Linked DNA regions of Homo sapiens: region 1 is linked to region 2. The links come from fine-mapping of genetic effects on gene expression. A gene starts in region 2. The other region holds a variant in brackets. All regions are shown on one strand. Distances are from middle to middle. Region 1 has its middle 7.1 kb from the start of ADGRE2. Region 2 holds the start of ZNF333 (zinc finger protein 333).

Evidence for each region. PIP is the estimated chance that this variant, and not a neighbour inherited with it, causes the effect.
Region 1: its variant is the best candidate, but not a certain one, in a credible set for the expression of ZNF333 in whole blood (TOPMed, PIP 0.69).

Annotation. Positions count from the first base shown.
Region 1 is chr19:14,782,951-14,788,326 of GRCh38, reverse strand. No RefSeq gene overlaps it. Among named protein-coding and RNA genes, the nearest start is that of ADGRE2, 7.1 kb to the right of the region's middle. RefSeq lists an enhancer at 1,309-1,808 and a cis regulatory region at 1,573-2,024. The variant G/A (reference allele first, on the strand shown) is at 2,670.
Region 2 is chr19:14,687,386-14,692,761 of GRCh38, reverse strand. ZNF333 (zinc finger protein 333) reads right to left here and starts at 2,714. Exons shown (of 12, transcript NM_032433.4): 1 at 2,612-2,714. RefSeq lists silencers at 2,371-2,740, 3,071-3,120.

The sequences.
Region 1 (5,376 bases), 96 kb before region 2:
ACCTGTCAGGAGTTCAAGACCAGCCTGGCCAACATGGCGAAACCCTGTCTCTACTAAAAATCCAAAAAATTAGACGGCGTGATGATGTGCACCTGTAGTCGCAGCTACTTGGAAGGCTGAGGCAGGAAAATTGCTTGAACCCAGGAAGTGGAGGTTGCAATGAGCCAAGATCACACCACTGCACTCCAGCCTGGGCACAGAGTGAGACTCCGTCTCGAAAAACATTATGAAGCACAAGCAAAAGCAAGAAAACACAAACCACAGAGAAATCAGCAGAAACCAGACTTAGAAATAAACTAATAGGGAATTTAAAATAACTATAATTGGGCCAGGCGCAGTGGCTCACACCTGTAATCCCAACACTTTGGGAGGTCAAGGCAGGCGGATCACGAGATCAAGAGATCCAGACCATCCTGGCAAACATGGTGAAACCCCGTCTCTACTAAAAATACAAAAATTAGCTGTGCATGGTGGCACGCGCCTGTAGGCCCAGCTACTCAGGAGGCTGAGGCAGGAGAGTCGCTTGAACCTGGGAGGCCGAGGTTGCAGTGAGCCAAGATCCTGCCACTGCACTTCAGCCTGGCGACAGAGAGAGACTCTGTCTCAAAAAAATAAACTATAATTAATTTTTTTTAACTCTAGTGCAATTCTAGTTTATTGCATTCTCTTATCAAAACTCCTGAACCACGGGACACTGGCGCCACTCTGGCTGGTCCCTCCCAGCTCACAGTAGTCTCCCTCATTCTCTGACTCCCTCCAATTCCTTTCCAAGCTCTGCATTCTTCCAATTTCTCATACTTACTCTCATAGAACTCCTATTTCCTGGGCGCTCAGAACCACCAACATCCCAGCCCTAGATCCCTGAGTCCTATTCCTGGATTTCTGCAGGCCCCCGCACTGGGACCTCAATTTCGCTCCCTGCAAATGTGTGGTCTCTGACTTCCGGTATCGGAAGCAAGGATTTCCGGTTCCCACGCTCCTGTTGACAAAAACTTCCCGTTTTCGTTTTTTGAGGTTGGGCAACAGCACTATGAGAGGCCGAGGCAGGCAGATCACTTGAGGTCAGGAGTTCGAGACCAGCCTGGCCAACATGGTAAAACCCTGTCTCTACCAAAAATGCAAAAAATTAGCTGGGCATGGTGGCACGCGCTTGCAATCCCCGCTACTCAGGAGTCTGAGGCAGGAGATCGCTTGAACCCAGGAGGCGGAAGTTGCAGTGAGCCAAGATCCTGCCACTGCACTCCAGCTTGGGTGACAGAGACCCTGTCTCAAAAAAAAAAAAAAAAAAAAAAACCAAGCAAACAAACAATCAAAAAAAAAAAACGAGCTGACTCTGGACTCACGCAGGCCTGGTGTCTCCGATCCCAGCCTTGCCATTTTCTGGCTCTATGAACCTGGGTGAGCCGCATCGCCTTCCTGAGCCTCAGTTTCCCCATCTGTAAAACAGGGATTCACCCATTCACTGTTCCACAAATGTGCACCCAGGACCCACTGACACCAAGCGCTGCGCCCAGCTCTAACCTATATAAAGTTAAGGCAGAACACGAACATGGTTAAGTGCGTTCACCCCTCCCCCAGGCATGGAGCTGCTGAACTAGTTTTAGGAATGGGGAAATCAGAGCATGCGTGGACAGAGGGAGGACCACAGAGTGGACCACCCCCACTCTTCTCAGATTCCCCTCATTTGACCAAAAAGCCCGTCTACCAGGAGGTGGGACCCCAAGCAGGGTGCCCGGGCTTGGCATCCTAATCCGGGCCAGGAACTGACCCCAGCAGCCAGACAGGGGAGGGGGCTAAAGCTTGGGTTTTCCCACCTCCGGCTTCCCGCCGCTGCAGCGCGTGGAGCCAGCGCCATCTGTGGGCCGCCAAGGGGAGGTGCGTGCGACTGCCGGGGAAGTGGATGGTCGCCCCCGTTTCTCCCCGATCCGGGCGCCTCAGGCCCCCCAGGAGTTTCGGAAACAGCTCTCATCTCTTAAATTATCCTCCACATCCCACTTTTCCCAGTTGTCATTTCCCAGCTAGAACTCATCGTTCATGTATTATTTATGCACATTTATTGAGCAGCTACTGTGTGTATTGAGCAAACCTAGAGCATTGCTGTAGGTTTCGAGTACAGAGAAGAAACAGAACAGGCCTGGCTCGGGCCTGTAACCCCAGCCACTCAGGAGGCTGAGGCAGGAGGATCACTTGAGCCCAGGAGGTGGAGGCTGCAGTGAGCCATGAAGGCAACACCACACTCCAGCCTGGGCAACAGAGCAAGACCCTGTCTCTAAAAGTAAGAAGAGGCCAGGTGCAGTGTCTCGGCCAGGCACAGTGGTCACGCCTGTAATTCCAGCACTTTGGGAGGCCGAGGCGGGTGGATCACCTGAGATCAGCAGTTCGGGACCAGCCTGGCCAACATGGTGAAACCCCCTCTCTACTAAAAATACAAAAATTAGCCAGGCGTGGTGGCAGGCGCCTGTAATCCCAGCTACTCAGGGGGCTGAGGCAGGAGAATTGCTTGAAAACGGGGAGGCAGGGGGCGGGGGCAGAGGTTGAACCGAGATCGTGTCACTGCACTCCAGCCTGGGTGACAGAGCAAGACTCTGTCTCAAAAAACAAAATAATTAAAAGATAAAAAAAAATTCTGAGGGAAAGGTATTCCAGGTGGCGAAAACAGCACATGCAAA[G/A]GCCCTGAGGCTGGACTGGGCCTGGTATATTTGTTTGGGGAATAGTGAGGAAGGTGCTGTGGCTGGAGCCAAGTGAATGAGGGGAAGAGAGCTGGAGGTGACAGGGCAAATCACACAGCCAAGCCTTGTGGGCCTTGGGGAAGACTGGATTTTACTGGGTAAGGTGGGAGCCATAGAGGGTGCTCAAGGAGAGGAAGAGCTTGGTCTGAACGGATTCAGATGCTCACAGGAAGAACAGACGGCCAGACCAACAAGACAGCTGTCACAGATACAGGAAGAGATATTATATCTCCCTGCGGTTGGTTTTGTTGCTTTTTCCCATGACTCATGGGGAGAGGAACCAGTGGGGCGAGGAGCTGGGAGGACAGGCCACCCCAGACTTCCCCTTCCCAGGAGTCGGGGAGCCCCCACCCCACCATGTCCCAGGACACACTCGGGCAGGGCTGCCAGGAGTGTTTGTGTTTCACCCTCTCTAGATGGGTGGAAATGAGGTGTGGCTGGGGAGGTGGTGGGGTGGCCAGGAGGGAAGCTGGGTCCCGGAGAGGCAGGACCCGTGAAGGCATCGGGGAAGGGGGTGCCCCCTCTGAGAAGGCACAGGGGTCTTGCTGTCTCCTTTCTCTATTTGAGTATCAAAGGCCTGCTCAAGCCCGAAGCTAAAGGGAAGGTCAAGGGTGTGGGGGCGTCAGGCTGTGGGTGGCTGGGTTTAGTCACAGCTGTGACTGCACTGCCGGTAAGGACCCTGGAGGCTGGACGTCAGCCCTGCCAGGGTTGGGCAACATCCTGTTGGGGAAGTCTCTTCTAGTTATGGTTTTCGCTTTTCCAGCCCTACTCTGACCCTAGTGGGAGAATTACAGGCAGGGGAGCACAGGATGAACGCGCGCGTTACCAGAAACAGAAATAATCCCCTTTAAATTTTCCCAAGAATAGGATATACACATGCAAAAAATAATAATAATAATGAAAGAACTTAGACCCTACGTCATAACCATACACAAAAAGTAACTATATGAGGCCAGGTGCGGTGCTTCACGCCTGTAATCCCAGCACTTTGGGATGCCGAGGCAAGGGAATCACCTGAGATTAAGAGTTTGAGACCAGCCTGACCAACATGGTGAAACCCTGTCTTTACTAAAAATACACACACACACACACACAAAAATAGCCAGGGGTGGTGGCACACACCTGTAATCTCGGCTACTCGGGAGGCGAGGCAGGAGAGTAGCTTGAACTCAGGAGGTGGAGGTTGCAGTGAGCCAAGATCACGCCACTGCACTCCAGCCTGGGTGACAGAGAGAGACTCCATCTCAAAAAAATTAAATTAAATTAAATTTAAAAATAAACATAAGTATCCGTTTGAGTGTCTGCCTTCAGTTTTCTCAGGTGTATACCCAGGAGCAGAATGGCTGGATCACAGGGTCACTCTGCAAGTAACTTTTTGAGGAGCCGCAAACTGTTTTCTATGCCTGGAAAGAAGTGAAAGGGAGACCTCCATCCGAGGGACAGAGCCCTGGGGATGGGTTGATTCTCATCAATGCTTTCCCATCGTTTCTTTCTGGTACTGGCTGGGACCGTCAGTGCCATCCATGGCCCTAATTCTCGGGAACCCACAAGCCCACAACAGAAGAGGCCCAGAGGCATGCGGAGGGGTTGACCCGGGTGGGCACCCAGCCTGAATAAGCCCCCTTCCTCCCCTGGCCTTCCCCACCCATCGAAAGTCAAGGGAAGGATTCTGAGACCCCCATCCTCACAGTGCCCCCCAGAAGCCTGACCCCATCCTTATCGGGACATCGGCACCACCCTGCTCAGAAGATTTTGCAAAATGGGGAAGACACTGAGAGCTGCAAGAAGGTGATAAAAATGCCACCAAATGTCACACAGCGTTCCCAGCTCAGGGCTTCTTGTTGGCTGCCACCAGTTCCCCACCCCCACAGCCACCCCTGAGCTGTTCCCCTCCCCCACCCTACTCTCTCCTTTGCTTCCTCTAATCGCTTCTCCTTAAAACCTTTACACATTTTAAAATTCTTTTTTAAATATTTGTATAGAGCCTCAGGTTTATATAATTCATGAAACAATGTAATTCTTGGGACCATCGGTCTATCCATGATCAGCTTTATTTTACTTACTTATTTTCTGAGACAGAGTCTCACTCTGTGGCCCAGGCTGGAGTACAGTGGCGAGAGCTCACTGCAACCTTGAACTCCTGGGCTCAAGAGATCCTCCCACCTCAGCCCCGTGAGTAGCTGGGATTCCAGGCACATGCCATCACTCCTGGCTAATTTTTGCATTTTTTGGTAGAGATGGAGTTTTACCATGTTGCCCAGGCTGGTCTCGATCCCCTGGGCTCAAGGGATCCTCCCGCCTCGGCCTCCAAAAGTGCTGAGATCACAGGCATGAGCCACTCTGCCTGGCCGATTTTATCTTCCTTGATACAAACTCTTTTCAGAATTCTCTTTGTTTTTGCTTTGGTCCCTGATAAAATCACATGTGAATATAACCGCAAAACACCACATGCCTGCATTACATGGCGTTACGTTAAACAACCATCATTTTGGCTGGGCGCAGTGACTCATGCCCGTCTCTACTAAAAATACAAAAAAATTAGCCTGGCGTGGTGGTGTGCACCTGTAATCCCAGCCACTTGGGAGGCTGAGGCAGGAGAATGGCTTGAACGCGGGGGGCGGAGGTTGCAGTGAGCCGAGATTGTGCC
Region 2 (5,376 bases):
GCAGGTGGATCACTTGGGGTCAGGAGTTCAAGACCAGCCTGGCCAACATGGTGAAACCCCATCTCTACTTAAAATACAAAAATTAGCTGGGCATGGTGGCACACACCTGTAATCCCAGCTACTCAGGAAGCTGAGGCCAGAAAATCGCTGGAACCCGGGAGGTGGAGGCTGCAGTGAGCCCAGATCCCACACTGCACTCCAGCCTGGGTGACAGAGCAAGACTCTGTCTGAAAGAAAAAAAATAAATAAAAAGAAGATCCAATGCTAACCATGATCTTCAGGGACCTGCCTCCCTCTCTCACCTGGCTCATCCATTCAGTACTTTATTTTCTCTACTTTAGCTTTCTCTACCTGTTCTCAGCTCCTGGAACACAGCAGGCTTCGTACTGCCTGAAAGACTGTACATCTGGAATGTTCTCTCAAGTTTCCTCCGCTACCCCACTCCACAGCTAGACCCCTTGTTTAGCTACGTACAACTCATCTTGAAGGTTCAAACATTTGTTCCTTTTCAGATGTGTTTCCTGACATCCTCCCCAAGTTCTCCTGTTCCACGTTCTCATATTGCCTTTGGCACTATTAATTTACCAATATTATTAGCTAGAATAAAGCCTCCACAGGGGCAAGCACTGTAACTATTTCAGTCCCACTGTTTCCCCATGTACAGGGTCCAATTCATTGAGGGCACCCCAGTGAAAATATGCCAAATAATCAACACTCCTCAAGAATGACTCAGTATAGCTAGCCTAAGAAGGAATATGCCCACGCACACACAAAACACAGTATGAGGCCAGGTATGGTTGCTCACGCCTATAATCCCAGCACTTTGGGAGGCCGAGGCGGGTGGATCACCTGAGGTCAGGAGTTCCAGACCAGCCTGGCCAACATGGTGAAACCCCGTCTCTACTAAAAATACAAAAATTAGCCGGGCATGGTGGCGGGCGCCTATAATCACAGCTGCCTGGGAAGCTGAGGCACGAGAATTGCTTGAACCCAGGAGGCAGAAGCTGCAGTGAGCCGAGATTGTGCCACTGCACTCCAGCCTGGGTGATGAAGTGAGACTCTGTCTCAAAAAAAAAAAAAAAAAAGACAATATGACACCATAAAAATCAAATATAAGAATAACTTAAAGTGCCTGTCTTTCATAAGACATAATCACACAAGTTTCAGGTACCTTTAAGAAACAATATTAATTCTTTTTAAAAAGGCAAGGCAAGCGCATATATTCTTTGTGGAAACAAACACCTCACTCGTAAAACTGAAATCTGATGCATGATTTTCCTCTGGAGTTAATTTTTTCCTGATTTCTCAGTAGACACGAGCTTTAACCCCATTATTAAAAAAGACATCCCACTTATGGCCAACTCAATTTGAATTTCCAGTATTAACAAAGTTTATATCGTCTTTTCCCTGAAGTTCCATTAGTTTTGAAGCTCTGTGATTCACATGCTTGGGGGAAGGACTGGAGCCAACTTGAAAAGATCTGAATAACAGTCTTAGGTTTTCTTGATAATAATATTTGTGAAATAACTGAGAAACGGCTTTTCTTAACCTAACAGTGAGAAACTTGATGCCCACAGCAGAAGTAAAAGTCGTCTCAAACATAGAAAATAAAGAAAAACAAAAACAAAAAAAATTAAGAACTCCTCCTTTTGTTGTTGTTTTTGTTTTTGAGATGGAGTCTTGCTCTGTCACCCAGGCTGGAGTGCAGTGGCACAATCTCAGCTCACTGCAACCTCCGCCTCTGGGGTTCAAGCGATTCTCCTGCCTCAGCCTCCCGAGTAGTTGGGATTACAGGCGCCCACCACTACGCTCGGCTAATTTGTGTATTTTTAGTAAAGACAGGGTTTCACCATGTTGGCCAGGCTGGTCTCAAACTCCTGACCTCAGGTGATCCACCCGCCTCGGCCTCCCAAAGTGCTGGGATTATAGGAGTGAGCCACCAAGCCTGGCCAAAAGCTTTCTTATGAGAAAGAAAAAAAAGAAGAAAGAAAAAGTTATGGAAAAGGAAGAGATGCAAAGCCAAGCTAACAGATATTAAGCTAAAAGACTTCAAATTGTCAGTCTCCAAAAGAAATCTCTCGTCATCTAATTCATTCCTTAATGGAGGATGCATTCAATTTTTTAAGTAAATTTGGCCAATCAATTAAACCAGTTTGCACATGTGGACCCAGACCTCACTTTCCAGTTGCAAAGCTAGATAATATTAAGTATCATATCAAATAAAACGTGAATTACTAATTCGCAGTTATCTTGCATACTGTAGGCAAGGTAGGGCCGTCTTTATGCACTTTCCCTAAAAATTGGGAAGGACAGGTGAGAGCTGGGGCCGGTGTCACCACATTTCTGAGCTGTGGGACCTGGACTGTTTGGGATTTCCCTTTTGACAGGATGACAGCCCTGTCTGCCCGGACGGGGGGTACCTGAGAGCGAGAGACCGGGCGGCGGGCGCCCAGATGCGAGGCCCTGACTGTGTGGGCCTCACGCCGGCCACCGGCTGATCGCAGGGAGGAAACCCCTCACACAGGCGGAGCTGTTCTAGGCCCTCCAGTCCCTCCCCGCGCCAGCCGAGCCCTCCCCGCCCTCCCCGCCCTCCCGAGGGGCCGGGCCACACCTGCAAGCCAGCCGGAGACACTCCCACCGTGCCGTGCCGCACCGCGCCGCGCCGCGCAGCACAGCTCAGCCGCCGTCGGCCGCCGCCGCGCGCACTTCCGCTTCCGGTCTCGGGGCCGCCGGGAACGGAAGTGGCTGTGGCTCAGGCTGTTGTGGCCAGGGTAGCCTTAGGCGGCGGCAGAGAAACTAACGTCTTCTTTAGCCTCCAAGGAGAAATTCTAGTATTCTTACCCGGGGGATGAGGTTAGGCTCTGGAGTGGGGTCCCACAGAGCATGGAGGGTGGTGCTGGGGGCGGAGCCTATGTCCGAGAGACAGGGATAGGGGTGGGGCTTAGGTCCCGGGGCAAAAGTGGGGCGGGGCCTGTGCGCGGGGGCGGGGTGGAGTGTGGCTTGCCCTCCGATGGCTGATGGGCGGGGCTTGCACCCCAATGGCGGAGTGGGCGGGGCCTTGGTTTGCAGGGTGGTAGTAGGGGCGGGTCGTGCGCCTCAGGGGCAAAAATGGGGCGGGGCTTGTGCTTGGGGTGGGAATGGGAGCTGAACTTGCATTCGGAAGGCGGGATGAGGGGACCTGGGCTTCAAGGGTTGAGAGGGGCACACCCGACCCCTCCCCGGGTCTCTTTAGGGATGCTCAATATTTAACTTACCCTTTTCTCCTTCCTTTTCCCCAACCCCTTCCACCTTTATCCATGGGCTTAATCCAATCCCCTACAAAAATATACCCATACTTAAGATTGTTTTTGTATATTTTTATACGGCTGACCCTTAGGCAACGGGAGTTGGGGCGCCACCCTGTGCAGTGGAAAATTCACTTCTTTTGACTCCCCCAAAACCTACCTACTAATAGACTACTGTTAACCAGAAGCTTTACCAATAACATAAAGTTAGTTAACACATATTTTGTATATTATATGCCATATTCTTAAAATAAACTAAGCTCAGAGAAAAGAAAGTGTTATTAAGAAAATCATGAAGAAGAGAAAATATATTTACTCTTCGTTACGTGGAAGTGATCGTAAAGATCATAAATAAACGTCTTCATCGTCAGCTTCACCCTGAGTAGGCTGAGGAAAGGGAGGGGTTTGTCTTGCTGTCCCAAGGAGGACAAAGGTAGAAAAAAATCTACCTATAAGGGGATAGCCACAGTTCAAACCCTTGGTGTTCACGGGTCAACTAACTGTCTTTATTCTAAAAATAGGACGATGTATTTTTGTTTCTTCTACAGCTTGCCCTTCTCACTAAAAATAAGATGTGTGAATCTAAGACATAGATCTGACTTTTTAAAAACTATTTATTATGTAGTATACATAGTACATACCTATGGGAAAAGTTCAAACGGGAGGCTCACTCTATTCCTAAATTTTCCTCCCCTGAAACAACCACTGTCACTAGTTCCCTGGTATTCTTTATATATCAAGCACATGTGCAGTCATGCACCACATAACAAGGTTTTGGTCAACCACGAAACACATACACAGTTGTGATCCCATAAGGTTATAATGGAGCTGAAAATTTCTTATCACCTAGTGATGTTGTAACTGTCACAATGTTGCAGTGCAACACATTACTCACATTTAAAAAGGTTTTAAAAATATGAAAAGACCGGGCGCGGTGGCTTACGCCTGCAATCCCAAGACTTTGGAGGCCGACGCTGGTGGATCACTTGAGGTCAGGAGTTCGAGACCAGCCTGGCCAACATGATGAAACCCCCAGTCTCTACTAGTAATACAAAAATTAGCTGGGCATGGTGGCATGCGCCTGTAATCCCAGCTATTCGGGAGGCTGAGGCAGGAGAATTGCTTGAACCCAGGAGGTGGAGGGTGCAGTGACCCAAGGTCTTGCCATTGCACTCCAGCCTGTGCAACAAGAGCAAAACTCCATCTCAAAAAAAAAAATGAAAAATAGCTTATAGAATAAGGATATAAAGAAAGAAAATACCTTTATGCAGTACAATTTATCTGTGTTTTAAGCTAAATGTTCTTACAAAGAAGTTGGGCCGGGCGGGGTGGCTCATGCATGTAATCACAGCACACTTTGGGAGGCCAAGGCAGGAGGATCGCTTGAGTCCAGGAGTTCCAGATGACCAGCCTGGGCCACATAGCAAGACACTGTCTCTAAAAATAAAAATAAAAGAAATGTATCATTTAAAAAACAAAATGTACAAAGGTTCAGTTATTTCAGATAAATAAGTTTTGGAGATCTAATGTACAGCATGGTGACTGTAGTTAACAGGAACATATTATGTACTTGAAATGTGCTAAGAGGGTAGGTCTTACGTGTTCTTACCACCAAAAAAAAAAAAGCAAATATGTGAGGCGATGGATGTGCTAATTGCTTCATTATTTCACTGTATGTATATCAAAACATCAAGTTGTACACCTTAAATATATACAATTTTTATTTGTCAACTATAACTCAACAAAGCCAGGAGTAAGAAAGGAGTCAGTGGCCAAGCATGGTGGCTCACGCCTGTAATCCCAGCACTTTGGGAGGCTGAGGCAGGTGGATCACCTGAGGTCAGGAGTTCAAGACCAGCCTGGCCAACATGGTGAAACCCCGTCTCTATTAAAAATACAAAAATTAGCCGGGCATGATGGCAGGCGCCTGTAATCCCAGCTACCCGGGAGGGTGATGCAGGAGAATCACTTGAACCTGGGAAGCAGATGTTGCAGTGAGCCGAGATCGCACCATTGCAATCCAGCCTGGGCAATAGAGCTAGACTCCGTTTCAAAAAAAAAGAAGTGAGAACATCCAGTATTTGGTCTGCTG